Linked DNA regions of Homo sapiens: regions 2, 3, 4 and 5 are each linked to region 1. Evidence: fine-mapped expression QTL. A gene starts in region 1. Each other region holds a variant in brackets. All regions are shown on one strand. Distances are between the middles of the regions. Region 1 holds the start of SFI1 (SFI1 centrin binding protein). Region 2 has its middle 9.1 kb from the start of LINC01521. Region 3 overlaps SFI1 (SFI1 centrin binding protein). Region 4 overlaps DRG1 (developmentally regulated GTP binding protein 1). Region 5 overlaps SFI1 (SFI1 centrin binding protein).

Evidence for each region. PIP is the estimated chance that this variant, and not a neighbour inherited with it, causes the effect.
Region 2: its variant is fine-mapped to the expression of SFI1 in esophagus muscle (GTEx, PIP 0.90).
Region 3: its variant is fine-mapped to the expression of SFI1 in CD4 T cells (BLUEPRINT, PIP 0.95). The same link has a PIP of 0.9 or more in atrial appendage and whole blood.
Region 4: its variant is fine-mapped to the expression of SFI1 in whole blood (TOPMed, PIP 0.93).
Region 5: its variant is fine-mapped to the expression of SFI1 in whole blood (TOPMed, PIP 0.94).

Annotation. Positions count from the first base shown.
Region 1 is chr22:31,493,631-31,499,486 of GRCh38, reverse strand. SFI1 (SFI1 centrin binding protein) reads right to left here and starts at 2,951. Exons shown (of 33, transcript NM_001007467.3): 1 at 2,850-2,951. RefSeq lists silencers at 1,930-1,989, 2,890-3,109 and enhancers at 2,600-2,869, 5,144-5,193.
Region 2 is chr22:31,352,944-31,358,799 of GRCh38, reverse strand. No RefSeq gene overlaps it. Among named protein-coding and RNA genes, the nearest start is that of LINC01521, 9.1 kb to the right of the region's middle. The variant G/C (reference allele first, on the strand shown) is at 2,725.
Region 3 is chr22:31,603,996-31,609,851 of GRCh38, reverse strand. It overlaps SFI1 (SFI1 centrin binding protein), which reads right to left. Exons shown (of 33, transcript NM_001007467.3): 19 at 5,448-5,543; 20 at 4,907-4,983; 21 at 3,422-3,524; 22 at 1,819-1,915. Among named protein-coding and RNA genes, the nearest start is that of MIR7109, 15 kb to the left of the region's middle. The variant A/G (reference allele first, on the strand shown) is at 3,544.
Region 4 is chr22:31,432,697-31,438,552 of GRCh38, reverse strand. It overlaps DRG1 (developmentally regulated GTP binding protein 1), which reads right to left. Exons shown (of 9, transcript NM_004147.4): 9 at 4,101-4,681. The coding sequence ends at 4,582. It also overlaps a transcript of EIF4ENIF1 not described here. Among named protein-coding and RNA genes, the nearest start is that of DRG1, 36 kb to the right of the region's middle. The variant A/G (reference allele first, on the strand shown) is at 3,443.
Region 5 is chr22:31,590,708-31,596,563 of GRCh38, reverse strand. All of the region lies in intron 15 of SFI1 (SFI1 centrin binding protein), which reads right to left. Among named protein-coding and RNA genes, the nearest start is that of MIR7109, 28 kb to the left of the region's middle. RefSeq lists enhancers at 3,113-3,921, 4,731-5,540. The variant T/G (reference allele first, on the strand shown) is at 2,670.

The DNA of each region.
Region 1 (5,856 bases):
TCAAGAAACCACTTTCACCAGGCACGGTGATTCACACCTGTAATCCCAGCACTTTGGGAGGCTGAGAGATGGAGACCATCCTGGCTAACACAGTGAAACCCTGTCTCTACTAAAAATACAAAAAATTAGCCAGGCGTGGTGACACATGCCTGTAATCCCAGCTACTCGGGAGGCTGAGGCAGAAGAATCACTTGAACCCGGGAGGCGGAGGTTGTGGTGAGCACTTTGGGAGGCCAAGGCAGGAGGACTGCTTGAGACCAGGAGTTCAAGACCAGCCTGCTCAACTAACAAGACCCTCATCTCAAAAAAAAAATTAGCGAGGCATGGTATTACACACCCAGGTACTGAGGAGGCAGGAGGCTAAGGCAGGAGGATCACTTTCGCCTAGAAGTTCAAGTCTGCAATGAGCCATGATCACCACTGCACTCCAGCCTGGACAACAGAACAAGACCCTGTCTGAAAACAAAAGTAAAAACAAAGCCGGGCATGTAGTGGCTCAGGTCTGTAATCCCAGCACTTTGGGAGGCCGAAGCAGGTGGATCACATGAGGTCAGGAGGTCAAGAGTGTGCCATGCACTCCAGCCTGGGCAATAAGAGTGAAACTCCATCTCAAAAAAAAAAAAAAAGAAAAAAAGAAGCCACTCCTCATCCATCCAAGTTTTATCATGAGGTTGCAGCAATTGGTCACATTTTTAGGCTCCCCTTCTAATTCCAGTTTGCTTGATTTTTCTATCATATCTGCAGTTACTTCCTCCACTCGGGTCTTGAGTCTCTCAGTTATCCATGGCGGCCTGACTCAACTTTTTCAAACTCCTTTTAATGATTTTTTTTTTTTTTAGACGGAGTCTTGCTCTGTCGCCCAGGCTGGAGTGCAGTGGTGCAGTCTTGGCTCACTGCAACCTCTGCCTCCTGGGTTCAAGCAATTCTCATGCCTCAGCCTCCTGAGTAACTGGGATTACAGGCGCCCACCACCACACCCAGCTAATTTTTGTATTTTTAGTAGACACAGGGTTTCTTCAAGTTGGCCAGGCTGGAATTGATATTTTAACCCCTTCCCACAAATCATGAATGTTCTTAATGGCACCTAGAAATCCTTTCCAGAACATTTTCAATTTACTTTGCCCAGATCCATCAGAGGAATCACTACCTATGGCAGCTATGGGGTCACAAAATATATATATATTTTTTTGATATGGAGTCTCATCACTCTGTCGCCCAGGCTGGAGTGCAATGGCGCAATCTTGGCTCACTGCAAGCTCCGCCTCCCGGGTTCAAGTGATTCTCCTGCCTCAGCCTCCCCAGTAGCTGGGATTATGGGTGCCCGCCACCACATCCGGCTAATATTTTGTATTTTTTAGTTGAGACGGGGTTTCACTATGTTGGCCAGGCTGGTCTCAAACTCCTGACCTCGTGATCCACCCGCCTCGGCCTCCCAAAGTGCTGGGATTACAGGCATGAGCCACCATGCCCAGCCCACAAAATGTATTTCTTAAATAATGACTTGAAAGTCAAAATTACTCCTTGAACCATGGGCTATAGAATGCATACTGTGTTAGCAGACATGTAAAGTAACATTAATCTCTTTGTACATCTTCATCAGAGTTCCTTGGTGACCAGGTGCCTTGTTAATGACCAGTAATATCTTGAAAGGAATCCTTTTTTCTGAACAGTAGGTCTCGATAGTAGGCTTAAAATATTCAGTAAACCACACTGTAAATATGATGTAAAGACATTCAGTAAAGAGATGTGTGGTCATCCTGGGTTTGTTGTTGCATTTACAGAGCATAGGCATTTCTAGCTTCGTCATTTCTAGCTTCGTCATTTCTAGCTTTTGATATAAAGTGAGAGACATGGAACTCTTCCTTTCACTGAACACTTAGGGGCCACTGTGGGGCTATTAATTGGCCTAATTTCAATATTGTTGCCTCTCAGGCTACAAGGAGGACCGAGAGGGAGGAGAGAAACAGGGAACTGGCAGGTAGTGGAGCAGTCAGACACAACACTTAAGTTTGCTGTCTTATACCAGTGAGGTTCGTGGCCACCTAAAACAATTGCAATAACAACATCAAAGATCACTGATCACAGATCACTGTAACGGTGCACCTGAAATAAAAAGTTTGAAATATAGCGATAGTTACCAAAGTGTAAGTGACAGGAAGTGGGCACATGCTGTTGAAAAAATAGTTGCTCGGTGCAGGGCTGCTTGCTACAAACTTTCAATTTGTAAAAAACACGGTATCTGTGAAGTGCAATAAAGCGAGGTATGGCTGTACTCAAGTCCCTCACATCATTCATTCAACAAATATTTACAACACATCTACACAGCAGTTAAGAAACCTGAACAGCCTCCCATAAAAACAGGTACCCACCTCCCACGCGGGGAAGGCTTCCAGGTTTGTTTACTGCGTTACTCCCTGCGGGCTCAGTGGGAGTAAGGTCGCCCATATACCAGCCCTTCCGCTCCTGGGCCACGGAGCCGGGAGGAGGAAACCCCTGATTTGGATCCGCGCACGCTAAGGGGCATTGCGTGGACTCGAGCACCGGCCAGGAGCGCACTAGACGCCTGGGAGGATGCGGTGCCCCCAGGGCGGAAGACAAGAAGCCGAGAAGACGCGGCGGGAGAGGATGGCAGGCTCCGGGCCCCGTCCTGCGCCCTCTTGTCGCACTTCCTCCATTCCCGCACCACAGACCCGCAGGTAGACAACATCACCTGCACTTTCAGGGGAGGAAGCGGAGGCTCGGACAGATTTCACCGGGCTCGGAGGAACCCGACTGAGGTCCTTGCCGGGCTCACTGCCGGAAAGGCCGAGCCCAGAAGAGGGTGGGGACGTTAGGGCCGGGCCTCGTACCTGGGGAAGCCGAGCCATCGGGCCTGACGTTGGGAGAAAACCCGGCGGTATACGGCGATCCGGGACCTGCTTCTTAACTCCCGCGCGGTCCACGCCCGCCTCAGCGCTTCGCGCGCCTCTAGACGCCAGTCTCGCGCGGGCCCGCCCTCGTCTCCACGGCGACGCGGCGCGCACGAGGACCACCCCGCCCAGACCCCGGGGCTTGCGCAGCCTCAGTCGGGTAGGTGGCGCACTTCGGGTTGCTTTGCAGCAGCAGCAATGAGAATCGGTTTCGAGGGGCGTGGAGCATGCACCCTCTGGGCATCCCCACCGAGGGTTCTTTATCTCCTTGGCTCGCCAGCTTCGCTCTGAGCTCAGCTTGCTACTGCTCCTCTTAGACAAGAGAAGTGGGAGGTATTCCGAGGCGGAACCCCGAGTTACGCCGCCCGCGGCCGAGCACTAAAGATGAGGTTCCAGCTGGGAGGCGGCTGCGTACGAAAGTCCTCCCTCCCTCACTTCCGGACTCGTGCGTGGGCCTCTCTGGCTTTTGGTTCACAGGGAGTGGAAACCGGAACCCGTGGAGTATGACCCGCCCATGCGTGGACCCGGCAGGTTGCTACAACTTGCACTTGGAGGGGAGAGGTCCCAAGGCCCCCGAATTAGAAATGCCAGGCTCATCTCTTTTTGTAACCCTTCATTTTAAAATGTAATTAATAAGCACTCTTTTTGTTAAATTTTTAAATTTGGGCCGATCCTAATAATCTTAAAAATAGGAGTGGGAGGGGTAAGTGGGACTTTTCAAATACTTTTTTACGTGCTTTGTAAAACATTTGAAAGCACGTGAGATTCCTGGTGCAGAGACTAAAAGCAGTAGTTATTTATTTGAAAGATTTTACGCTAAAAACAGGAAAATTAACTTGTTGGGTGTCTCGGGCTTAGCATCACAGACAATTTGTATTTTTGCCCTATTTTCTACATGCTAATTTTTGCAATTAAAACATTTATTATTTATTTTTTGAGAAGGAGTCTCCCTCTGTAGCCCAGGCTGCAGTGCAGTGGCGTGATCTGGGCTCACTTCCACCTCCACCTCCCGGGTTCAAGTGTTTCTCCTGCCTCAGCCTCCCAGGCGCACGCCACCACGCCCGGCTAATTTTTTTTTGTTTTTTTGATAGAGACGGTTTTTACCATGTTGGCCAGGTGTGTCTCGAACTCCTGACCTCAGATGATCCGCCCGCCTCGGCCTCCCAAAGTGCTGTGATTACAGGCATGAGCCACCGCGCCTGGCCCTAAATTATGTTTTATATGGTGAAACCTCGTCTCTACTAAAAATAAAATTTAAAAAATTAGCCGGGGGTGGTAGTGGGCACCTGTAATCCCAGCTACTGGGGAGGCTGAGGCAGGAGAATCGCTTGAACCCAGGAGGCAAATGTTGCAGTGGGCCGAGATCGTGTATTTGCATTTGCCTGGGCAACAAGAGCAAAACTGTCTCAATAATAATAATAATAATAATTTAAAGGGAGTTCTACTTTAGCGGACATCAATGCTAATGTTTTAGGGACAACTTTTATCTGAACTTAATGTGGCCAAGTAGTTTTAAAATAATTTAGTAAGCTTCAAGGTTGTAATTAACAGTATAACAAAAATATATTTACTGTAATTTAGCCTAAGTACTTTTATGTAATTATGTAAATTTATATAAATTATATATTTAGGATAAGTCAATAAGCACTTCTTTCTAGATGATTTGAGCTAATTTCCTAATGCTTTCTTCCTGTTATGTGCATTTACCATCCTCAGCTTTGACAAATTTAGGAGGGATGAAAGGCATTTCCATTTGAGTTACAATGAAAATAGTCCTGTTGGGAAAGATTAGAAGATAATAGTACATAATAATAGCTAGGACAAGGACATCTTAGAGGCTGGGCACGGTGGCTCACACCTGTAATCTGAGCATTTTGGAAGGCTGAGCCAGGAGAATTGCCTGAGCCCAGTAGTTCAAGAACAGCCTGGGCAACATAGTGCCCATCTCTACAAAATATAAAAAATTTGACCAGGCGCGGTGGCTCACGCCTATAATCCCAGCACTTTGAGAGGCCAAGGTGGGTGATCACTTGAGGTCAGGAGTTTGAGACCAGCCTGGCCAACACGGTGAAACCCCATCTCTACTACTAAAAATAGAAAAATTAGCCAGGCGTGGAGTCACGAGCCTGTAATCCCGGCTACTCGGGGGGTTGGGGCAGGAGAATCGCTTGAACCTGGTGGGGGCGGTTGCAGTAAGCCAAGATCCTGCCACTGCACTCCAGCCTGGGTGACAGAGCGAGACTCTGTCTCGAAAAAAAAAAAAATCTAAGGGTTACTCTTGGAGCAAGAAAAACTGAGTAGGAAAAAGCCCATTTAGAGAGGTGCAATCCAGCCTTCTGTGATGAGGCTGCTGAAAGGTCATGGCCTGGCATTAAACTCTCTCACAGGTGCTCTCATAATTTCTGGGTTTCTAGTATTTTCTTTTTTCTTTTTTTTTTTTTTTTGAGACAGTTTCACTTTTGTCACCCAGGCTGGAGTGCAGTGGCGCGATCTCGGCTCACTGCAACCTCCGCCTCTCAGGTTCAAGCAATTTTCCTAGCTCAGCCACCCAAGTAGCTGGGATTACAGGCATATGCTACCACGCCCAGCTAATTTTGTATTTTTAGTAGAGACGGGGTTTGGTCACGTTGGCCAGGCTGGTCTAGAATTCCTGATCTCAAGTGATCCTCCCACCTTAGCCTCCCAAAGTGCTAGGATCACAGGCATGAGCCACCATGTCCGGCCAGTTTCTGGTATTTTCATTTGCTTCTCTGCTGTTCTTGGACTGCTAATTTCCCCGACTGACTGAACCTTTGAGACCCCTTATGCCAAACTTTGGGCCAACAATTTAGACCTAAACCAAGATCTTACACATATTTAGTAAAGAACTAGAATAATTTCTCTCTCAAAGAGCTTTCCCAAGCTGATACTTGAAAATTGGTTATTAGTTGCAGAAGGGGGCATTTAG
Region 2 (5,856 bases), 140 kb after region 1:
GAGCCACCACACTCGGCTATGATTCTTCTTTTTATTTATTTATTTTTATTTTTTTGAGATGGAGTCTGTTGCCCAGACTGGAGTGCAATGGCACGATCTCGGCTCCCTGCAAGCTCCGCCTCCTGGGTTCACGCCATTCTCCTGTCTCAGCCTCCCAAGTAGCTGGGACTACAGGCGCCCGCCACCACACCCAGCTAATTTTTTGTGTTTTTAGTAGAGATGGGGTTTCACCATGTTAGCCAGGATGGTCTCGATCTCCTGACCTTGTGATCTGCCCCCCTCGGCCTCCCAAAGTGCTGGGATTACAGGGGTGAGCCACCGTGCCCGGCCCCGATTCTTCTTTTTATTTATTTATTTGAAACAGAGTCTTCGTCTGTCACCCAGGCTGGAGTGCAGTGGCGCAATCTTAGCTCACGGCAACCTCTGCCTCCTGGGTTCAAGCGATTCTCGTGCCTCAGCCTCCCGAGTAGCTGGGACTACAGGCACGCACCATCACACCCAGCTAATATATATATATATTTTTTTTTAGTAGAGGCTGGGTTTTGTCATGTTGGCCAGGCTGGTCTCGAACTCCTGGCCTTAAGTGATCTGCCCCACCCTCAGCCTCCCAAAGTGTTGGGATTACGGGCATAAACCGCCATGGCCGGCTCATAATTCTTATTTTAAATCTAAATTTTGAATTTCAGAATACTGTTGTTTTAAGCTCCTTTCCCCCACCAATCTACTTACCTCCCACCTCCAGTAGAAAACGCCTCATAAAAGCAGCACTCGTCGCCCCACAAGCTGTCTTTCTCCATTTCTAGTCCAGCATATGAAATCAGATTATCATATTAAAGCTTCTGGTATGTATGATGTGCAAAGACGTTCTTCTCAGTGCTATCTATAATAGCAAAGAAAATGAAAAAGGACACAACCTAAGTGTTCCACAGGAGAAACCGTTAGAGAATCAAGATCAAGATACAACCAATCATCCAGTCGGGAAGCTTTGCAGCCCGTGAAAATAAGATTTCTTTAATATTTACTTATTTTATTTTTAATTTTTATGTAATGACTTGAAAGGTACTCATGATATTATGGGTTCTCTATGGCTTTTCTTTTCTTTTTTTTTTGAGGCAGAGTCTTGCTCTGTTGCCCAGGCTAGAGTGCAGTGGTGCGATCTCGGCTCACTGCAACCTCCGCCACTGGATTCAAGCGATTCTCTTTTCCTCAGCCTTCTGAGTAGCCGGTATTACAGGTGTGCGTCACCACACCTGGCTAATTTTTGTATTTTTAGTAGAGACGGGGTTTCATCATGTTGGTCAAGCTGGTCTTGAACTCCTGAACTCATGATCCACTCGCCTCAGCCTCCCAAAGTGCTGGGATCATAGGTGTGAGCCACCACGCCTGGCCTCTCTATTGCTTTTCAAATGACAAAAGTAACTAGTTGCGTTGTAAAAATAAAACACTATATAAGTGTTTTTGTTTTTGTTTTTGAGACAGAGATTCACTCTTGTTGCCCAGGCTGGAGTGCAATGGCACGATCTCGGCTCACTGCAATCTCTGCCTCTCAGGTTCAAGCGATTCTCTTGCCTCAGCCTCCCAGGTAGCTGGGTTTACAGGCATGTACCACCATGCCTGGCTGATTTTTGTATTTTTAGTAGAGACAGGGTTTCACTATGTTGGTCAGGCTTGTCTCGAGCTCCTGACCTCAGGTGGTCCACCCACCTTGGCCTCCAGAAGTGCTGGGATTACAGGTGTGAGCCATCGTGCCTGGCGCCTCTATTGCTTTTCAAATGACAAAAGTAACCATTTGCGTTGTAAAAATAAAATAAAACACTATGAAAGTGTTTAAGATAAAAAGTGAAAGTGGCCCCAAAACACACTTACCTACAGTCCCAGTGTTAATCTGCAACATATTCATAATATACTGCTTCATTTAAGAAGCAGGAGAGGGCAGGTGTGGTGGTGGGTGCCTGTAATCCCAGCTACTCACTTGGCTGAGGTAGGAGAATTGTTCAAGCCCACAAGTTCAGGTTGCAATGAGTTATGAACTCATCACTGCACTCTACCCTGGGCGATAAAGTGAGACACTCATTTCTTAATGTAAAAAAAAAAGCATATATTCATTAGTAGTATTTTTAACAACAGTGCATTGAAACTGAAAAAAAAAAGTCAAGATGAAAATATACCAACATTTGGCCAGGCACAGTGGCTCACGCCTGTAATCCCAGCACTTTGGGAAGCTGAGGCAGGTGGATCACCTGAGGTCAAGGAGTTCAAGACCAGCCTGACCAACATGGTGAAACCTCATCTCTACTAAAAATACAAAACTTAGCTGGGCATGGTGGCAGGCGGGAGGGTGAGGCAGGAGAATCACTTGGACCTGGGAGGTGGAGTTTGCAGTGAGCTGAGATGGCGCCGTTGCACTCACTCCAGCCTGGGCGACAAGAGCAAAACTCCATGAAAAGAAAAAAACAGAGAGAGAGAGAAAAAGGAGGAGGAGGAAAAAGAAGAAGAGGAAGAGGAAGAAGAAGGAGGAGGAGGAGAAGGAAGAAAGAGAGAAAGAAAGAAAGAAAGAAAGAAAAAAAGAAAGAAAAAGAAAGAAAGAAAGAAAGAAAGAAAGAAAAAGAAAGAAAGAAAGAATATACCAACATTTTAGTACTTCTATTTAAGTGGTGAGACACTATGGATAATTTATTATCGTTTCCTCTGCTTTGCCTCATTTTCCAAATTATATTTGATGGA[G/C]AAAATAAACATTAAAAAGAAAAATAAGGCTGGGCACAGTGGCTCACGCCTGTAATCCCAGCACATTGGGAGGCCAAGGCGGGCAGATGGCTTGAGCCCAGGAGTTTGAGACCAGCCTGAGCAACGTAATGAAATCTTTGTCTCTACAAAAAATACACAAATTAGCCGGGCGCAGTGGCACACGCCTGTAATCCCAGCACTTTGGGAAGCCGAGGCGGGCAGATCGCTTCAGCCTAGGAGTTTGAGACCAGCCTGGACAACATGGTAAAACCCCTCTACAAAAAGTATAAAAGTTAGCCAGGTGTGGTGGCTGACACCTGTGGTCCCAGTCACTCTGGAGGCTGAGGAGGGAGGATTGCTTGAGCCAAGGAGGTGGTAGAAGCTGCGGTGAACCGTGATGGCACCACCACACTCCAGCCTGGGTGACAGAGCAAGACCCTGTCTTTAACAAAAAATAAAAATAGGCTGGGCTTGTGCTCACGCTCACGCCTGTAATCCCAGCACTTTGGGAGGCAGAGGTGGGCAGATCACCTGAGCTTAGGAGTTGGAGACCAGCCTGGCCAACATGGTGAAACCCTGTCTCTATCAAAAATACGAAAATTAACCAGGCATGGTAGTGCACACCTGTAGTCTCAGCTACTCGGGAGGCTGAGGTGGGAGGATCGCTTGAGCCCCAGAGGCAGAGAATGCAGTGAGCTGAGATTGTGCCACTGCACTCCAGCCTGGTTGGCACAGCAAGACCCTGTCTCAAAAAATAATAAAAATAAAAACAGCTGGGTGCAGTGGCTCACGCCTGTAATCCCAGCACTTTGAGAGGCTGAGGTGGGTGGATCACCTGAGGTCAGGAGTTCGAGACCAGCCTGTCCAACCAGTGAAATCCCATCTCTACTAAAAATACAAAAATTAGCTGGGGGTGGTGATGGGTGCCTGTAATCTCAGCTACTTGGGAGGCTAAGACAGGAGAATCACTTGAACCTGGGAGGTGGAGGTTGAAGTGAGCCGAGATAGCATTACTGCACTCCAGCCTGGGCAACAGAGTGAGACTCCGTCTAAAAAAAAAAAAAAAGAAAGAAAGAAAAAAAATTATCTGGACATGGTGGCATGTGCCTGTAGTCCCAGCTACTCAGGAGGCTGAGGCAGGAGAATTGCTTGAACCTGGGAAGCGGAGGTTGCAGGGAGCTGAGATCATGCCACTGCACTCCAGCCTGGGTGAAAGAGCGAGACTCTGTCTCAAAATATAAAAAATACAAAAATTTTTAAAAATAAAATTAAAAAATAAAAGTGTGTGGCACCTACTCTCACTTGCTCCTGTTTTCACCATGTGACTTGCCTGATCCCCCTTTGCCTTCTGCCATGATTGAAAGCTCCCTTAGTCTTCACCAGAAACTGGGCAGATGCCAGCACCATGCTTCTATAGAGCCTGCATAACCATGAGTCAATTAAACGTCTTTTCTTTTCTTTTTTTTTTTTTTTGAGATGGAGTCTCAGTCTGTCACCCAGCCTGGAGTGCAGCGATGCGATCTTGGCTCACTGCAACCTCCACCTCCCAGGTTCAAGTGATTCTCCTGCCTCAGTCTCCCGAGTAGCTAGGACTACAGGTGCCCGCCACCACGCCCAGTTAATTTTTTATATTTTTAGTAGAAACGGGATTTCACCATGTTGGTCAGGCAGGTCTTGAACTCCTGACCTCAGGTGATCCACCCACTTCGGCCTCCCAAAGTGCTGGGATTACAGGCTTAAGCCCCCGTGCCTGGCCTCTTTTTTTCTTTTTTTGAGACAGAGTTTCGCTGTTGTCACCCAGGCTGGAGTACAATGGTGTGATTTTGGCTCACTGCAACCTCCGACTCCTGGGTTCAAGCGATTTTCCTGCCTCAGCCTCCCGAGTAGCTGGTATTCCAGGCACACACCACCTTACCTGGCTAATTTTTGTAATTTTAGTAGAGACGGGGTTTCACCATGTTGGCCAGGCTGGTCTTGAACTCCTGACCTCAGGTGATCTGCCGGCCTCAGCCTCCCAAAGTGCTGGGATTACAGACGTGACCCCAAATATCTTGTCCCCACAGCATCTCCATTGCCCAGCACGGTGCGTGGCACAAATAAGACACCCATAAATACTTCTTGAATGAATAAATGAAAAAATCATTTTGGCTCTCAAATTGTCAGACATTTCACTAACCACCATTACAGCTAACCCAACATGGGAAGGACCTAGTGTTTTTATACACTGCTGTTGAATCAAATGTCACTCAGGAATCTCACCTAAAAGCTTAACTCATGCGAGCACTATGACTTTTTTTTTTTTTTTTTTTTTGAGACTGAGTCTCACTCTGTCACCCAGGCTGGACTGCAGTGGTGTGATCTTGGCTCACGGGCAACCTCCAGGAAGACCTTCAGGCACTTCTGGACATTAACTCTTTCTCTGTAATGTGCAGCTGATTTTCTTCAGTTAGACAGTTGCCTTTCACGTGTATGTATGTGTGTGGCCATGTTTCCTGCCCCCGTGTCACCAGCGATACCTTGACTCTCTCTCCTTCAGGTAATCAGGCACAAAAAAGAAAATCCTGGGGTGGGCACGGTGGTTCACGCCTGTAATCCTAGCACTTTGGGAGGCCGAGGCGGGCGGATCACTTGAGGTCAGGAGTTAGAGACCAGCCTGGCCAAAATGGTGAAACCCCATCTCTACTAAAAATACAAAAATTAGCCGGGCATGGTGGCGGGCGCCTGTAATCCCAGCTACTCTGGAGGCTGAGGTAGGAGAATTGCTTGAACATGGGAGGCAGAGGTTGCAGTGAGCTGAGATCATGCCACTGCACTGCAGCCTGGGCAACAAGAGCGAAATTCCATCTCAAAAAAACAAAAAAACAAAAAAATCCTCCCAGGTTAAAGTATAGAAATACAAACAATTACACATGAGGACTTTTTTTTTCCTTTTTGTGCCTGATTAATGAAAAGAAAGAGTGTTAAAGTCTCTGCTAGTGATGCAGAGGCAGGAAACATGGCCAATGATAAACCGTGGCCTACTGGGTCCCAGTCGGGCCTTGAAGACCACAGCACAGAGGGGCTGAGATAACTTGGACGGAGCAGGGAAGCAGGAACTGCTGAGCCTCTCCCTCCTGCAAGATCCTTGTGTAG
Region 3 (5,856 bases), 110 kb before region 1:
GCTGCACGGTCAGGTGCCCAAAGGGTCAGGTGCAGAAGCTCCAGAGCCCAAGGTCTGGCTAAAGCCCTCGGCTTCTTTCTTCGTAAACTAGAAACACAGTGCTGGTTTCTGAGCTGAGGAGAAGCTCCAGGACCCAGCAGCACATTCGTGGCGCAGTAATGCAGCCGTGTGGGATGGCTGACCCCAGGGTTTTGTCCCCAGGATGTGTGTTGAAACATGCTCATTAACACACACGCTACAGTCGGAACCAAACCAAAGCTGATTCAGTTTTGTCCTGGAGCAAACTCTATTAAACCAACTTAACCACTTGGTCAATTTCTCTATGGGCCAATTTAAACAATTTCTAAATGTTTTCACTTTTATTTGTATTTTCATTTATTCTAAAAATGAGCTGTCCCCTTCAGCGTGTCAGATTCTCCTACTATGGGACCCCTAGCTGTGTTAGGAGACAGCTCCCCATGGGTCTGCCGCGTGTCTGTGCATCTTGCAAGCAGGGGCATGGACTCCTGTTCTAGACTATCTTTCCAAAGATTTTTTAAAAGAGACTAGGTCTTGGCCAGGTGTAGTGGCTCACGCCTGTAATCCCAGCACTTTGGGAGGCCGAGACGGACGGATCACGAGGTGAGGAGATCGAGACCATCCCAGCTAACACGGTGAAATCCTGTCTCTACTAAGAATACAAAAAATTAGCCTGGCGTGGTGGCACACACCTGTAGTCCCCGCTACTCTGGAGGCTGAGGCAGGAGATTCGCTTGAACCCCAAGAGGTGGAGGTTGCAGTGAGCCGAGATCGCACCACTGCACTCCAGCCTGGGAGACAGAGTGAGACTCTGTCTCAAAAAAGAGAGAGACTGGGTCTCATTCTGTCACCCAAGCTGGAGTGCAGTGGTGTGATCATAGTTCATTGCAGCCTCCAGCTCTTGGGCTCAAGTGATCCTCCCACCTCAGGCTCCCAAGTAGCTGGGACTATAGGTGTGTACCACTGTGCCCTGCAATCTTTCCAAAGATGTATATACAGCAGGCAGCAGGACTTCCTGAGATCGAATTAGAAAGTCTCTGGCCCCTAAACATTTAAGGGCCCAGCTACACAAGGAAGCAGGACGCTAACACGGTGGGGGCTGCCCTGACAAGCAGCAAGGACTTTCCCATCAAAACAACCCCCTCCCCAACCACCCCAAGCTCCTCCATTCCAGCTTCTTTTCTTTATTTCTCTGTAGATCTCAAGCTCTAGCCTTCCATTTTAACATAAACTGGTTGGCAGTCAGTTGGGAATAGATTTCTAAGATATACTGGACTGAACAGTGCCCCCTCCACACCTGCCGTATTCATGTCCTTCCTGGAACCTCACAATGTGACTTTTATCTGGCACTAGGCTCACTGCAGATGTAATTGGTTAGGATGGTGTCACACTCAAGTAGGGTGGGCCCTTCATCCGATATGACCAGAGTCCTTCTAAGGGACCCAGACACAGGAAGGGAACGATATGTCAAGATGGGGCAAAGACTGGAGCAATGGGTCTACACGTCCAGGAAAGCCATGACAAGCAAGAAACAAGCTGGGAGAGGCAAGGAAGGACCCTCCCCTAGAGCCTGTGGAGAAGCATGGCCCTGCCACACCTTGATCGCTGACTGCCAGCCTCCAGAACTGAGAGGGCAATTTTGTGTTGTTTGAAGACTCCCAGTCTGTGGTACTTTGTCATGGCAACCACAGGGAACTGGCATGTATGAGGAGGAGACAGACTTATGCGGGCCACAGGGATCTCCACAACAGCGCTGTCTTCACATTCCTCAACATGACTTGCTTCTGGGGCCCCACTTACCCCTGTCCAGCACCTTCTGGGCCTCCCAGATGGCACAGTCCTCCTGCTGTCGGTAATACATCTGCACTGACACAGCTTCCCGCCACTGGACCAGGACCTATGGGCAGGCAAGGAGCACAGCAAGAGTCACTATACCTCCTGGCTTCCGGGTCCACCCCAGGTCTGTGACGGTGGCTCCTGGAGAGGCAAGGCCAAGCTGTTGCCATTTGCTTCTCACACACGGTCCAGGAAGTAACTGCCTTGCACGCAGACCACTGAGCAATAGGACAGGGCCCCAGCCCCTCACAGGAAGCCCAGCATTTCAGCTGCTGGGACTCTTCTACCAGGATTTACATATCATACCATGCCATAAAGTAGTGAAGTCATTATATACATGGGTCTTAATTCTATTTTTATATATATATAAAATATATATATGTAATTTTTTTTTTGAGACATAGTCTCGCTCTGTCACCTGGGCTGGAGTGCAGTGGCATGATCTCGGTTCACTGCAACCTCTGCCTCCCAGGTTCTAGCGATTCTCCTGCCTCAGCCTTCTGAGTAGCTGGGATTACAGGCATGCACCACCACACCCAGCTAATTTCTGTATTTTTAGTAGAGACGGAGTTTCACCATGTTGGCCAGGTTGGTCTCGAACTCCTGACCCCAAGTGATCCACCCGACTCAGTCTCCTAAAGTGCTGGGATTACAGGTGTGAGCCACTGCGCCCGGCCTCTATTACTATTTAGTAAATGGAACACACCTACGTCGTATACATTCTTTTGTATGAGTGATGCCTACAAAATCACAATAACAAAACACTTGCCCAGGGAATGCCTGGTGCCTGCTCTGCGAGCTGTCATGAACTCCATTCCCACCAAAAAGGCCTCCTCTTCAAGCTCTGAAGCCAAGCAAAGATTCCTGTGTTCCTTCTTCCAGGGGAAGGGAGGCACAGGCTAGCTTCGGGTATTTTTTCTTTTCTTTTCTTTTTTTTGAGACAACCTTGCTCTGTTGTCCAGGCTGGAGTGCAGTGGTGCAATTCGGCTCACTGCAACCTCCACCTCCTGGATTCAAAGAGCCTGTAATCCCAGCACTTTGGGAGGCTGAGGCAGATGGATCACCTGAGGTCATCAGTTCAAGACCAGCCTAGCCAATGTGGTGAAACCCCATCTCTACTAAAAATACAAAAATTAGTCGGACGTGGTGGCGCAAGCCTGTAGTCCCAGCTACTCGGGAGGTTGAGGCAGGAGAAATCGCTTGAACCTGGGGGATGGAGGTTGCAGTGAGCTGAGATGATACCACTGCACTCTAGCCTGGGTGACAGAGTGAGACTGTCTCAAAAAAAAAAAAAAAAAAAAAAAGAAAAAAAGAAAATACTGGTTCTGATAAGAACTAGTTCACTTATGATGTGTTATGTTTCTATTTAATGCATATTGGTTTGTAATTCAGTAAAAAACTAAACATGTGCCCACATGGATGTTTGTGTGTGTGCTGGAGGAAAGTTACCCATTTTCTAGGTTCCTTATTCAGTTCAAATCTCTGGCACCACCCCCTACATCCCACGCCCTCACCAGAACACAGTCCCAACTCTCCTGGGTGACCAGCTTGCCTCCTTATACCTCACCTTGGAACATATGGTCCTTCTGTAATGAGTACTTGCTTGAAAGGTTTTTTTGGCTTCATCCACTCGGGCCATGGTGTTCTCTTTCCAGCGACGTAATGCCCCGCTGCAGATGCATGGGTGCG[A/G]GGAAGGCAGATGACACCAGGATAGAGAGAGAAGGGAGGCTTCTGTGAATCATTCCTACTTCTTCCCCTACTCCTGAGTCAGGGACTCTACACCTAAGAATGTCTGTTTCACCAACACCTATGTTTACTTGCACATCTATGTCCAACAAATGGCTACTGAGCAGCTGCTCTGGGCTGGGCACCAAGAGTGCATGAGGGACCCAGCACTGCTGGAGACCAAACTCCAGGTGCTACGGGGATAACAGGGCATAACCAGGCAGTGGCAACACAGGTGACTCACACTGTGATAAGAGAAGTGTGGAGAGACAGGGAACCTGGAGGAAGGTTGCCTACGCCTCAGCTTGCTGCTGAGTTAGCTCAGGGAGTTCTTGCTTATTCCACCCTGTCTGAAGAGCGGGATGGGTGCTCTATGGGACTCCATATGAGGGATGGAGGCATTTATTTTATTTATTTACTTTTGAGAGACAGGGTCTCACTCCATCGCCCAGGCTGGAGTGCAGTGGCATAATCACGGCTCACTGTGGCCTTGACCTTCAAGGTTCAAGTGACCCTCCCACCTAAGCCTCCCAAGTACCTGAACCACAGGCATACATGACCGTGCCTAGCTAATTTTTTTTATATTTAGTACAGACAAGGTCTCGCTATGTTGCCCAGGCTGGTCTGAAACTCCTGGTGTCAAACAGCCTCCTAAAGTGCTGGGATTACAGGCATGAGCCACCGCGCCCAGCTAAGGATGGAGGTGTTTAAAGTCCACGAGACCCACTGTCCATAGGCCACCAGGAGTATCATGTGCTGAACAAATACAAAGGAAGGAAATGAAAGGGGGCATGTGGGAGGACTGCTGGGAAGGAGTGAGGTTAGAGTTGGGCTTAGAAAGAGTGGCAGAAGCTGCAGAAGCACCCTCCACAGGGGTGAGTGGTGCAGATGGTCTGACAGGGCCTAGAGGTGACGCTGGAGAGTCAGTGACAGGCCTGCAGAGCAAGCTGGAAGGGGACTACTTGGAAATTGACAGGAAAGGGAGTCGCTGAAGCCTCTGGAGTGGAAGAGATGACAAGGTGCCTTGCAAAGCTGAATTTTGTAGGCGTGAAGCAGGGAGGAAAAAGTGCTCAGAAGAGCAAGACAAGTGGCCTTTAAGGCATGCAGGTAACAGCTGCTTTCCAAGGTCCTGCCCTGCACACAGCAGGGGCTTAAGACATGAAGGCGAACCCGTGAGTGAAGTGGAAAAGCCAAGACCATGATATTAGCGACTAGGAACCCGGGATCATCCCCGACCTGGCCCTCAGCAGGACCCCCTAAAAGGCTGGGGTTTGGAGTGCATTCCTTGTTCCCCAGCTGGAGCTTGGGAGGCGCCCGGGAGACTCACCGCAGCAGCTGCCTGTTGTGCTGGCTCTCCCTGGCTGCCACCTCCCGGAGGATGCTTCGCACCCTGCCCTGGTAAGTCTGTAGGGGACAAGGAAGACTGAGGCTGCTCTTGGGCCCACACTTCCCCCTGTTTAGGCAGGCCTCAGAGGTGCATCTACCACAAGGCTGCCATGCCCAGAGAACTCAAAAAGGGTAGGAAGAGGCCAACAGCCCCTGGTCCCAGGGCCAGCAGACCCTCCCAGACGACAGGGAGAAACTGTCTCACAGGCCCTCACCTCCTAAGTCAAACCATGGGACTCCAGGGAAAGGAGCTGCTTTCGCTACAAGGCTAGTACCCACAGACAGCACTTGTTTCCACTTGGCCAAGCAAGAATCAAAGAACCCTATGGCCTAAGGCCCGCTGTCCGGGGCACCTGCTTGGTTTGAGGTGTGTCACGTGACTCTGTTCTGGGACGGACAGGAAGAACAAGGAAGGAAAACAAAGTCTCCAGAAACCTCCCCTGTCCCCACAGCAAGATCAGGAGGGAAGCAGCAGTTCCTACCACCCATGCCTGCAGCGCCCTGTGCAGCACGCTGTGCTGGTGGTGCAGGTCTGCTCGCATCAGCTTCTGCCGCTCCGCTCCCCGCAGGGCCAGGCACTGCAGACAGAGGAGAAAGCAGCTACCGTGGGCTGGGGTCTGAGTTGGGGGTGGCTTCCTGCTTTGCCTCCATTTTATACATCATCTGTGTGAGTGTAAATTAACCTCTCTGGCCTCATCTATAAATACGTGCTTCTTAGGGGTTCTGTGATGATTTGATGAGGTAAGTGCTTGATTTGCGGTAAAAGCTCAATTAATGTGAGTTTAAACATGTTTTACACTCAGTAGGACGTAGGACTCCTGTAAATGGTTAGATCAGGAATTTTAGATGCAGTAAGTTCAAATAAGAACAGCCTAGGATCTGAAAGAACAC
Region 4 (5,856 bases), 61 kb after region 1:
AGTTTATTGAGGAATCATCTATTACATATGGTAGTTTCTCTCAAACAAATCATGTTTACTGGGGCATCCTGTTTCTCTAAGCTCAGAGTTCTGAGCTTAGACCCACTGAAGTCTAAGAATTTCCCTTAAGACTCATGCATTAATTGACTCCTTGTGTTCTGTATCACATTCCTTAGCTCACAATTGTTTTATTATTCACCTTAACTATTAGTATATACATAGCACTTACGGATAAAGATTCTACAGAATACAGTACAGTTCTGAGTCCCCTTTCCTAACTGGAGGTTTTTCAGTCCTGCTATGAGGTGATACTTATTTCCCATGCTACTCAAGTTAATTTACCAGAGTTCTAGATATTTGTCCATTCAGGACCATTTTAGGACTCCATGCTAAAGGGTCAGATAATGAGGTAAAGGTCAAGGTGGTTGGATTTTTGACTACAAGGGTAGTAGAGTCTTGGGCAGCCTAAGTCTTGACCGTTTGTTAGGGAATAATGACTATAAGCCTGGAACTGCCCACCCTGCCGTGTACTTGCAGGAATACAAGAAAGCAGGTCACCTTTCAAGAAAACCTGGCTTTATGGATTATGCATGAAGTCAGTCTCTTCCTGGTACTTTTCTTTCAGCCTCATTAGTAATCCCCTTCCCCCATGCTATTCACTCCATGTGATTCCTCAGCTTCAGAAATAGACCCTCTGTTTAGAATTTTTGGCAAATGCTTTCTGGTTTCCACAGGTGGAAGCTGGAACGCAGTCCCAAGTGTCAATGGCAGAACACAGACACCTGAATCCAGTTCCACCTTTCCTGTGTATCCTCTTCCACTTATCTTACTTCCCCTTCATGTTGAACCAACGTTAATAGGTGCAAGGTAAGGAGGACTGGGTTGAAGCTGCTAGTAAAGGCTTCCTTTTCAGACTAGAAGCTAGTAGGACAGAAACAGGTACCATGCAAAGAGCAAAGCCATTAGCTGGTGATTGGCAAATGGCGCCAGAAGGAAATAAGGGAGTATTGCTAAGAGTATCAGCAGAAGCTAGACATACAGGTTTTAGCAAAAGTATTTTGGTAAACACAAGGACTAGAGGAAGCGGGAGGGTGGGGGGGGGATGAAGGCAAAAGACACATTAATGCAGTCTTCAAGGAGCTAAGACCTTGATATAGGATGAGGGCAGAGAGGAAGGGATGTCTTTGGAGAAACTTTTGATGTCTTGCAGGCACGAGATGAGTTCACAAGCAATCAGTGCTGGAAGGATGTGCAAAATAAAAGTTAAGAGAAGCTGAGGATATAGAAGGCATCCTGAAAGTAAAACAGCTGAGGACCACAAAGCATATCATGGAAAATCTGTTAAGCAGGGGAGGTCAGGTAGGAGAGGAAAGAATAGTCCCTCCCAAAGGAAGCAGTTAAATAAGTCTGTGGGAGGTCAGTGGTAAAAGGAAGTGGGAATGAAGTGAACAGAGAGTGCAGCTAGGCCTTCCCCTAGGAGATAGCTACTGAGTGTCTTTTAAGCCAGACTCTATTAACAGGGAAGGGAAGTGGGAGGTCCATTGGCCTTTGTGAACTATGAGCATAAACACAAACCAAGAATGACGATAACTTACAGGGTTAAATTCTGGTTCTTCAATAATTCTATTCCCTTTACCAACAATTGATTCAAAAATAGACATGTGACCCAATTTTAGGCCACGAGACAACAAACTGGGTGGCTTCTGGAAAACAGCTTCCCAAAAAGGTAAGACCAAGTTCCCTTCCATTTCAGCCGCTTAAGTTAGCACTTTCTGCTAAATGCAGCTAAACGTGTTCTAACTAGTTAAATGGCACAGAACAATGGATCTGTTTACTTGTAATAAAGTCAGGAAAGAAACATGGAATATGTAAAAGCACAGGAAATTCAAATCATGCTATGACAGCCAAACCAGTAAAGTCTTAGAGTTAATGAGGAGAAAGCCTTTAGCTGTACCTCCACAGTGGCCATACCCTAGGCAGCATTCCCAATACCAAACATACCCCTCTCCCAGAACTGCTAAGTCTAAGCCCAGAGGAGAAAGGGAAAGGTAGGGTAATTCTCTCCTCAAGGAGACCAGGGGTCCCTGGACCAAGCCATGGGGAGGGTGCTAAATGATGGACACAAAGCCTATTCACAGAACATCCTGAGGCCTTAGGATGAACTGGATTTCAGCAACCTTCTCTCCCCAACATTCTGGCAGTGCTAAATGCTTGCTCAATGAAAGTGAATTTTGGCAAGAAGAGTCCCCAGAAACCCAATATGTTCTGGCTGGAGAACAAACCTTCCTGGAAATCCCGTAGCTCAGAAAGCCAATGTTTCCCTGTTCCCCTGCAGGGTTGGGGCAGGCTCTAGACCACGGCCTCTATCATGAATGCACCAGTGGTATCAAGGCCGATATTCTGAAAAGTAACTAGCATACCAGGCTTCAGGAGCTTACCTTCCAGGTCTGGGGACAGTGACAAGCCCAAGCTCCAGGAAGACTATCAAAGGGAAACAACTGCTATTAGGGCAGCAGGAGAAACAAGCACTGGAGAGAGGCTGAGTATGTGAATAATCCCACACTGTGATCACTCATGACCTGCTAAAAGCTCTGGCTTGCCTCATTTGAAGAAATAATCAAATTCTGTCTTGCTGCAAACCTATTCTTCCTGATTTTCTCAGGGACTACTCCATCCATACTGAAATAATGTTTGACTTCTTCCCAAGAGCAAGTTAGTTAACAAGTTTAAGATTTCTCCCCCATACTTACATGTCCATACCCTCCCTTCTGCCCATATTCTTTAATTATTTAATTTTTATTTCTTGGAGACAGGGTCTCACTCTGTCACCCAGGCTGGAGTGCAGTGGCCCATCTTAGCTCACTGCAGCCTGGACCTCCCAGGCTCAAGCAGTCCTCACCTCAGCCTCCCGAACAGCTGGGACTGCAGGCATGCACCACCATGCCCACCTAATTTTTTAAATTTTTTTGTAGAGATTGGGCCTCGCTATGTTGTCCAGGCTGGTCTCGAACTCCTGAGCTCAGGCGATCTTCCTGCCTTGACCTCCCAAAGTGCTGGGATTACAGGTGTGAGCTACTGGGCCCAGCCCCCTCCGTCCATATTGTTACCCACCACACCAAGATTTTCATCAACCAGTTTCACATAATCAGAGCAATCCCCTTAAATTCCTATATTCCTAGTCCCCCAAATATCTGATTATGTCCTTAGCATCCTCTCAAGTAGTCCTGACACCAAGCCTCCTCCTAAACCGCCCACCTCCATATATACACATATGTGAACACACAAACCTGCTTTGATCACACCAGTTGCCTCACTTGCAATGCACCTTCGCCCAAGTTATTGGCTGAAGCCAGGACTTTCATGGGGATTCAAGCAGAAAGTCTGGGTTATGGGAAAGAAGGCATTTAGTTGGCCGGGCACGGTGGCTCACACCTGTAATCCC[A/G]GCACTCTGGGAGGCTGAGGCAGGCGGATCACCTGAGGTCAGGAATTCAAGACCAGCCTGACCAACATGGAGAAACCCCATCTCTACTAAAAATACAAAATTAGCGGGGCATGGTGGTACCTGCCTGTAATCCCAGCTAATCAGGAGGCTGACACAGGAGAATCGCTTGAACCCGGGAGGCGGAGGTTGCGGTGAGCCGAGATCATGCCATTGCACTCCAGCCTGGGCAGCAAGAGCGAAACTCCATCTCAAAAAAAAAAAAAGAAAAAGAAAAAGAAAAAAGCATTTTAGTGGCCCAGGTGGCAACATAGTTCAGCTCAACATTCAACCCAACACTGATGATGTACAGCTGTGCTCTGCATAGGGCAGACAGCCCAGTAAAAGGCTCGGTGCAACAAAAGCCAAGAGTCATTGAGTACTTACAAATTGCTTAGCACAGTATTTGACATATAAGTACCATCTCCCTCCATTACTAACAATCACCACCGCAGAAAGTAAGTGCTATTACTATCCCCATGTTACATGAGGAAACTGAGGCTCATAAAGGTTGGGTAATTTGTTCAGGGCTCCACAGCTAACTAGAGGTGGACCTGCAATTTCAAACCCTGATCTGCCTGGTCGGAGTACTTAATTACATGATCTCCCAAAATAGGTTAGCCTTGCGGGGAGTGATCAATTAACTTACATAAAGTCCTTCCTCTCTCCAGTATCATGTGGGAAAGACTACTTGAAAGGACTGAAAGCCATATCTAGTTTGGAAGGGGTTCCCATAAGTAAACATCAAGTAAGATGCAGCATGTCATATTTTTATCCATTTCACACTCAAGATGAAGTTCCCAAGGATCCCTTCTGTAGCTGCTTCACCGTATATACCCTTCCTCATTCAGCCCATCCCAAAACAAATTCTGACAATGACACATGAGCTGCATGTAGCTGACCAGCCTACCAGATCTTTTATGCAGTTCGACATACAAGGTGACACCAAGGTAAGACAAATGAAGTTCCAGTTTGGGTGCCTCCATCTCCCTCCCCTGGATCCTGATCCAGTGACTGCCAAAACCAGAAAGAACTGGGGTAGGGTGCTTGATCATGGGGAACGCTGTTGTGGTTCGTCCGGCAGATGGGAAAAGGGAAAGGTTTCACTTCTTCACAATTTGAATGACATCCTCATCCTCCAACGTATGGTCTTTACCCACTTTCTGAGGATTGTGTTTCACAGAGAGACCCCAGACCAGAGCACTGCATGGAAGGGAAAAAGAACAGTCAGTGTAAATAATAACCTAGCTTCTGCCCTATTTGCCTGGATGCCACCCTTCTGCTCAGATTTAGTATCATACCCTTAAGAACCATAGACCTACAAAAGCTTTATCTTCCCTAGCAGCATGAGACACTGAAGCCTTAACATAAAAGCCGGTAAAGACTTCTGGAAGTTGTGTGGTTCCTCTTATTGCAGAAAGTCAAAGACAAAAAACATGTTTAGTATAAAGAGCCTAGTTTAAAATTAAAAGAAAGCATGGATTTGTTATAGAGAAATACTCTGGGCCGGGCGCAGGGGCTCATGCCTGTAATCCCACCACTTTGGGAGGCCGAAGGGTGCGGATCACCTGAGATCAGGCGTTCAAGAAAAGCCTGGCCAACATGGTGAAACCCCGTCTCCACTAAAAATACAAAAATTAGCTGGGCATGGTGGCGGGTGCCTGTAATCCCAACTACTCGGGAGGCTGAGGCAGAAGAATGGCTTGAACCCGGGAGGCGGAGGTTGCAGTGAGCCAAGATCATGCCGTTGCACTCCAGGTTGGGCAACGAGCGAAACTCCGCCTCAAAAAAAAAAAAAAAAATCCGTCTTTAATCTTCATAGAGAAATACCCTGAAAATTTCAGACTGATTCTTACAGATACAATATCACTTATAGACTGTTAGAGAATACCTGTTTTTGCTGGGTTTCCTGAAACCATCAGTGGGTACTGACAAGAAATTAGGGCCTCCCTCTTCAGCCATGCCAGGAAAATCTTCCTCCCTAACCAGAAACTGTAATTGATATGTCCTCCCGATTTACTGGAATATGTGAAGGTAATTTATATCCATGGGCCTCCAAACTTAAGAATATGTTGTGCTAGAGATGAAAACTGGTGAATAAGACACCGAGACCTGCCTCACAGAGACTAAGAACTATGTACCAAGAGTAAAAAAGGTGGCCATATTGTTGTTATATTATCATTGAGTCAAAACCTCTTTAAAAAATCTATATTCCAGGCCGGGCACGGTGGCTCATGCCTCTAATTCCAGCACTTTGGGAGGCTGAGGCGGGCGGATCACGAGGTCAGGAGTTCGAGACCAGCATGGCTAATATGGTGAAACCCTGTCTCTACTAAAAATACAAAAATTAGGCCAGGCGTGGTGGCTCACACCTGTAA
Region 5 (5,856 bases), 97 kb before region 1:
CTGCCTTAGCTTCCCCAAGTACTGGGATTACAGGTGTGAGCCACCGCGTCCAGCCTGAAGCCATTTTTGAATGAATCTTATACCAGCCCACAATACATGACTAGGTAAAGGCAAAGCTGCTCTGTCTGCAGAAGCCAGAAGAGACAAGAGATGTCCTTTCATCAGCCTCTATTTCCCGTGGCCACCACCTAAAACCATCTCCCTGGACTTCGTACTAAGGAAGCCAGAGTTCTGGCTAACCTCAAACTAGCATTCAAAGCCCTCCAGATGGATAGACAGATAGATAGAGAGAGAGAGAGATATTTATTTTGAGATGGAGTCTCGCTCTGTCATCCAAGGCTGGAGTGCAGTGGCGCCATCTCAACTCACTGTAGCCTCTGCCTCCTGGGTTAAAGTGATTCTTGTGCCTCAGCCTCCGGAGTAGCTGGGATTATAAGCATGCACCACCACGCCCCGCTAATTTTTGTATTTTTAGTAGACATGGGGTTTCACCATGTTGGCCAGGCTGGTCTGAAACTCCTGACCTCCAATGATCCACCCACCTCTGCCTCCCAAAGTGCTGGGATTACAGGCATGAGCCGCCACACCTGGCCTGAAATCCTCCAGATTAAAGATGACTGCAACTTCTCCCAATGCATGCCCCTCCATCTCACCCCTCTGTCCTAAGATAAAGTACACTGAACTTAAGGTAATTTCCAAAACTGTCATTTTACTAGTTCCATGTACCTGCTCAAATATCTTTCGAATATCTATCTATAGGGTCAGCCCAATCTCTTCAGTCTGGGCCTCCCCATCTTGCCCACTCCAGCCACCATCCTCACCCTCTCACTCACAGGAAGCCTCTCCCAGATACTTCCATGCTCAGTCTCCCTCAGCACTAGCTCTGAGCACTGGAAGAACTTGTGGCTGACATGACTGGGGACACGTGGATCTGTTCTCTTGAATTGGTTCTCAGTTGTTTCTTATCTCCTCACAAAAATTTCACCCTCCTACAAAGTCATCAAAAAGATCTTCCTCTTGATCAAGAAGAAAGCACCTGGACTTTGGAACTGGAGATGTGAATTAACCTGGCTGTACCACTTACTGGTTGTGTTACCATTTATCATTTTGAACCTGACCTCTCAGAATCACTGTGAAAAGGAAATTATTAATGAAGATAATGATGCCATGGGCAGAATGAGTTTATGTATTTGTTTTCTGTCTCCCATCACACAATGCCCAACACAGTGGCAGACATACAGTTAGTGATTAATAATTTCTTCATTACAGGCTGGGCGTGGTGGCTCATGCCTGTAATCCCAGCACTTTGGGAGGCCAAGGCGGGTGGATCACGAGGTCAGGAGTTCGAGACCAGCCTGGCCAACATGGTGAAACCCCGTCCCTACTAAAGATACAAAAAATTAGCCGGGCGTGGTGGCGCACACCTGTAATCCCAGCTACTTGGGAGGCTGAGGCAGGAGAATTACTTGAACCCAGGATGTGGAGTTTGCCGTGAGTCAAGATGGTGCCACTGCATGCCAGCCTGGGCGAAAGGACAAGACTCCAACTCAAAAATAAATAAATAAATAAATAAATAAATTATTATTATTTCTTCATTATGTCCCACCATATACTAAGAACCTGCTGTGGGCAAGTTTGTCCCTGTGGGAACTAAAAAGATGTAGATCTGCTCCTTGAGCTTTCTAATTTTTTTTTTTTTTTTTTTTTTTGAGACAGAGTCTCACTCTGTCGCCCAGGCTAGAGTGCAGTGGTGTGATCTCAGCTCACTGCAAGCTCCGCCTCCCAGGTTCATGCCATTCTCCTGCCTCAGCCTCCTGAGTAGCTGGGACTACAGTCGCCCACCACCACGCCCGGCTAATTTTTTGTATTTTTAGCAGAGACAGGGTTTCTCCGTGTTAGCCAGGATGGTCTTGATCTCCTGACCTCGTGATCCGCCCGCCTTGGACTCCCAAAGTGCTGGGATTACAGACATGAGCCACCAGGCCCGGCCTTTTTCTTTTCTTTTTTTTTTTTTTTGAGACGGCGTCTCGCCCTGTCACCCAGGCTGGAGTGCAATGATGCGATCTCAGCTCACGGCAACCTCCATCTCCCAAGTTCAAGCAATTCTCCTGCCTCAGCCTCCCGAGTAGCTGGGATTACAGGCATGTGCCACCAGACCGGGCTAATTTTTGTATCTTTAGTAAAGAGAGGGTTTCACCATGTTGGCCAGGCTGGTCTTGAACTCTTGACCTTGTGATCCGCCCGCTCCGGCCTCCCAAAGTGCTGGGATTACAGGTGTGAGCCACTGCACCCGGCCCGACCTTTGTAATTTTGTTGATGACTATCATTTCAAGACTTCAAAAAGCCAGGTCTAGCAGAACAGGAACTAAGTGTTTCGGGGAAATGACACTTAAGAATGTCTGCCAAGGTGAGGCAAGGTCCCACCGTGCTCTGATCCAGAAAGCTAATGGGCTGCTTTAATGGAGCTCTCAGTGGCTAATAATGAAGGTTACAAACAGGCTGTTTTGAAAGCCCTTGAAATAAAGATGGACACCTCCCTCTCCCTCTCCCTCTCCCTGTCCCTCTCCCTCTCCCTCGTCTCCGTCTCCCCATGGTCTCCCTCTCATGCGGAGCCGAAGCTGGACTGTACTGCTGCCATCTCGGCTCACTGCAACCTCCCTGCCTGATTC[T/G]CCTGCCTCAGTCTGCCGAATGCCTGCGATTGCAGGCACGCGCCGCCACGCCTGACTGGTTTTGGTGGAGACGGGGTTTCGCTGTGTTGGCCGGGCCGGTCTCCAGCCCCTAACCGCGAGTGATCCACCAACCTCGGCCTCCCGAGGTGCCAGGATTGCAGACGGAGTCTCGTTCACTCAGTGCTCAATGGTGCCCAGGCTGGAGTGCAGTGGCGTGATCTCGGCTCACTACAACCTACACCTCCCAGCCGCCTGCCTTGGCCTCCCAAAGTGCCGAGATTGCAGCCTCTGCCCGGCCGCCACCCCGTCTGGGAAGTGAGGAGTGTCTCTGCCTGGCCGCCCATCGTCTGGGATGTGAGGAGCCCCTCTGCCTGGCTGCCCAGTCTGGAAAGTGAGGAGCGTCTCCACCCGGCCGCCATCCCATCTAGGAAGTGAGGAGCGCCTCTTCCCAGCCGCCATCACATCTAGGAAGTGAGGAGCGTCTCTGCCCGGCCGCCCATCGTCTGAGATGTGGGGAGCGCCTCTGCCCCGCCGTCCCATCTGGGATGTGAGGAGCGCCTCTGCCCGGCCGAGACCCCGTCTGGGAGGTGAGGAGCGTCTCTGCCCGGCCGCCCCGTCTGAGAAGTGAGGAGACCCTCTGCCTGGCAACCACCCCGTCTGAGAAGTGAGGAGCCCCTCCGCCCGGCAGCCGCCCCATCTGGGAGGTGAGGAGCGTCTCCGCCCGGCAGCCACCCCGTCCGGGAAGGAGGTGGGGGGGGGTCAGCCCCCCGCCCGGCCAGCCGCCCCATCCGGGAGGGAGGTGGGGGGTCAGCCCCCCCGCCCGGCCAGCCGTGCCGTCCGGGAGGGAGGTGGGGGGGTCAGCCCCCCACCTGGCCAGCCGTGCCGTCCGGGAGGGAGGTGGGGGGGTCAGCCCCCCGCCCGGCCAGCCGCCCCGTCCGGGAGGTGAGGGGCGCCTCTGCCCGGCCGCCCCTACTGGGAAGTGAGGAGCCCCTCAGCCCGGCCAGCCAGCCCGTCCGGGAGGGAGATGGGGGGGTCAGCCCCCCCGCCTGGCCAGCCGCCCCGTCCGGGAGGGAGGTGGGGGGGTCAGCCCTCCCCCCGGCCAGCCGCCCCGTCTGGGAGGTGAGGGGCGCCTCTGCCCGGCCGCCCCTACTGGGAAGTGAGGAGCCCCTCTGCCCAACCAGCCGCCCCATCCGGGAGGGAGGTGGGGGGGTCAGCCCCCCGCCCGGCCAGCCGCCCTGTCTGGGAGGGAGGTGGGGGGGTCAGCCCTCCGCCTGGCCAGCCGCCCCGTCTGGGAGGTGAGGGGCGCCTCTGCCCGGCCGCCCCTACTGGGAAGTGAGGAGCCCCTCTGCCCGGCCAGCCGCCCCGTCCGGGAGGGAGGTGGGGGGGTCGGCCCCCCGCCCGGCCAGCCGCCCCATCCGGGAGGGAGGTGAGGGGGTCGGCCCCCCGCCCGGCCAGCCGCCCCGTCCGGGAGGGAGGTGGGGGGGTCAGCCCCCTGCCCGGCCAGCCGCCCCGTCCGGGAGGGAGGTGGGGGGGGTCAGCCCCCCTGCCCGGCCAGCCACCCCGTCTGGGAGGTGAGGGGCGCCTCTGCCCGGCCGCCCCTACTGGGAAGTGAGGAGCCCCTCTGCCCAACCAGCCGCCCCATCCGGGAGGGAGGTGGGGGGGTCAGCCCCCCGCCCGGCCAGCCGCCCTGTCTGGGAGGGAGGTGGGGGGGTCAGCCCTCCGCCTGGCCAGCCGCCCCGTCTGGGAGGTGAGGGGCGCCTCTGCCCGGCCGCCCCTACTGGGAAGTGAGGAGCCCCTCTGCCCGGCCAGCCGCCCCGTCCGGGAGGGAGGTGGGGGGGTCGGCCCCCCGCCCGGCCAGCCGCCCCATCCGGGAGGGAGGTGAGGGGGTCGGCCCCCCGCCCGGCCAGCCGCCCCGTCCGGGAGGGAGGTGGGGGGGTCAGCCCCCTGCCCGGCCAGCCGCCCCGTCTGGGAGGGAGGTGGGGGGGGTCAGCCCCCCTGCCCGGCCAGCCACCCCGTCTGGGAGGTGAGGGGCGCCTCTGCCCGGCCGCCCCTACTGGGAAGTGAGGAGCCCCTCTGCCCGGCCAGCCGCCCCGTCCGGGAGGGAGGTGGGGGGGGTCAGCCCCCCCGCCCAGCCAGCCGCCCCGTCCGGGAGGTGAGGGGCGCCTCTGCCCGGCCACCCCTACTGGGAAGTGAGGAGCCCCTCTGCCCAGCCAGCCGCCCCGTCCGGGAGGGAGGTGGGGGGTTCAGCCCCCCGCCCGGCCAGCCGCCCCGTCCGGGAGGGAGGTGGGGGGGGTCAGCCCCCCTGCCCGGCCAGCCGCCCCGTCCGGGAGGTGAGGGGCGCCTCTGCCCGGCCACCCCTACTGGGAAGTGAGGAGCCCCTCTGCCCGGCCACCACCCCGTCTGGGAGGTGTGCCCAATAGCTCATTGAGAACGGGCCAGGATGACAATGGCGGCTTTGTGGAATGGAAGGGCGGGAAAGGTGGGGAAAAGATTGAGAGGTCGGATGGTTGCCGTGTCTGTGTGGAAGGGAGTAGACATGGGAGACTTTTCATTTTGTTCTGCACTAAGAAAAATTCCTCTGCCTTGGGATCCTGTTGATCTGTGACCTTACCCCCAACCCTGTGCTCTCTGAAACATGTGCTGTGTCCACTCAGAGTTAAATGGATCAAGGGCGGTGCAAGATGTGCTTTGTTAAACAGATGCTTGAAGGCAGCATGCTCATTAAGAGTCATCACCACTCCCTAATCTCAAGTAACCAGGGACACAAACACTGCGGAAGGCCGCAGGGTCCTCTGCCTAAGAAAACCAGAGACCTTTGTTCACTTGTTTGTCTGCTGACCTTCCCTCCACTATTGTCCCATGACCCTGCCAAATCCCCCTCTGTGAGAAACACCCAAGAATTATCAATAAAAAAATAAATAAATAAATAAATAAATAAATAAAAAGAAAAAAGTTGGAATATAGAAAAGCCAGTAGTAAAACTAATCAAGAAAAAGAGAGAAGCAATTCAAATTTAAAAATATATATAAAAATAAAAATAAAATAAAAAGAGAAGGGGAAATGGACACATTCTCTTAAAAACTTGAAACGCTGGCCGGGCGCAGTGGCTCACGCCTGTAATCCCAGCACTTTGGGAGGCCCAGGCAGGTGGATCACCTGAGGTCAGGAGTTCGAGACCTTGCTGACA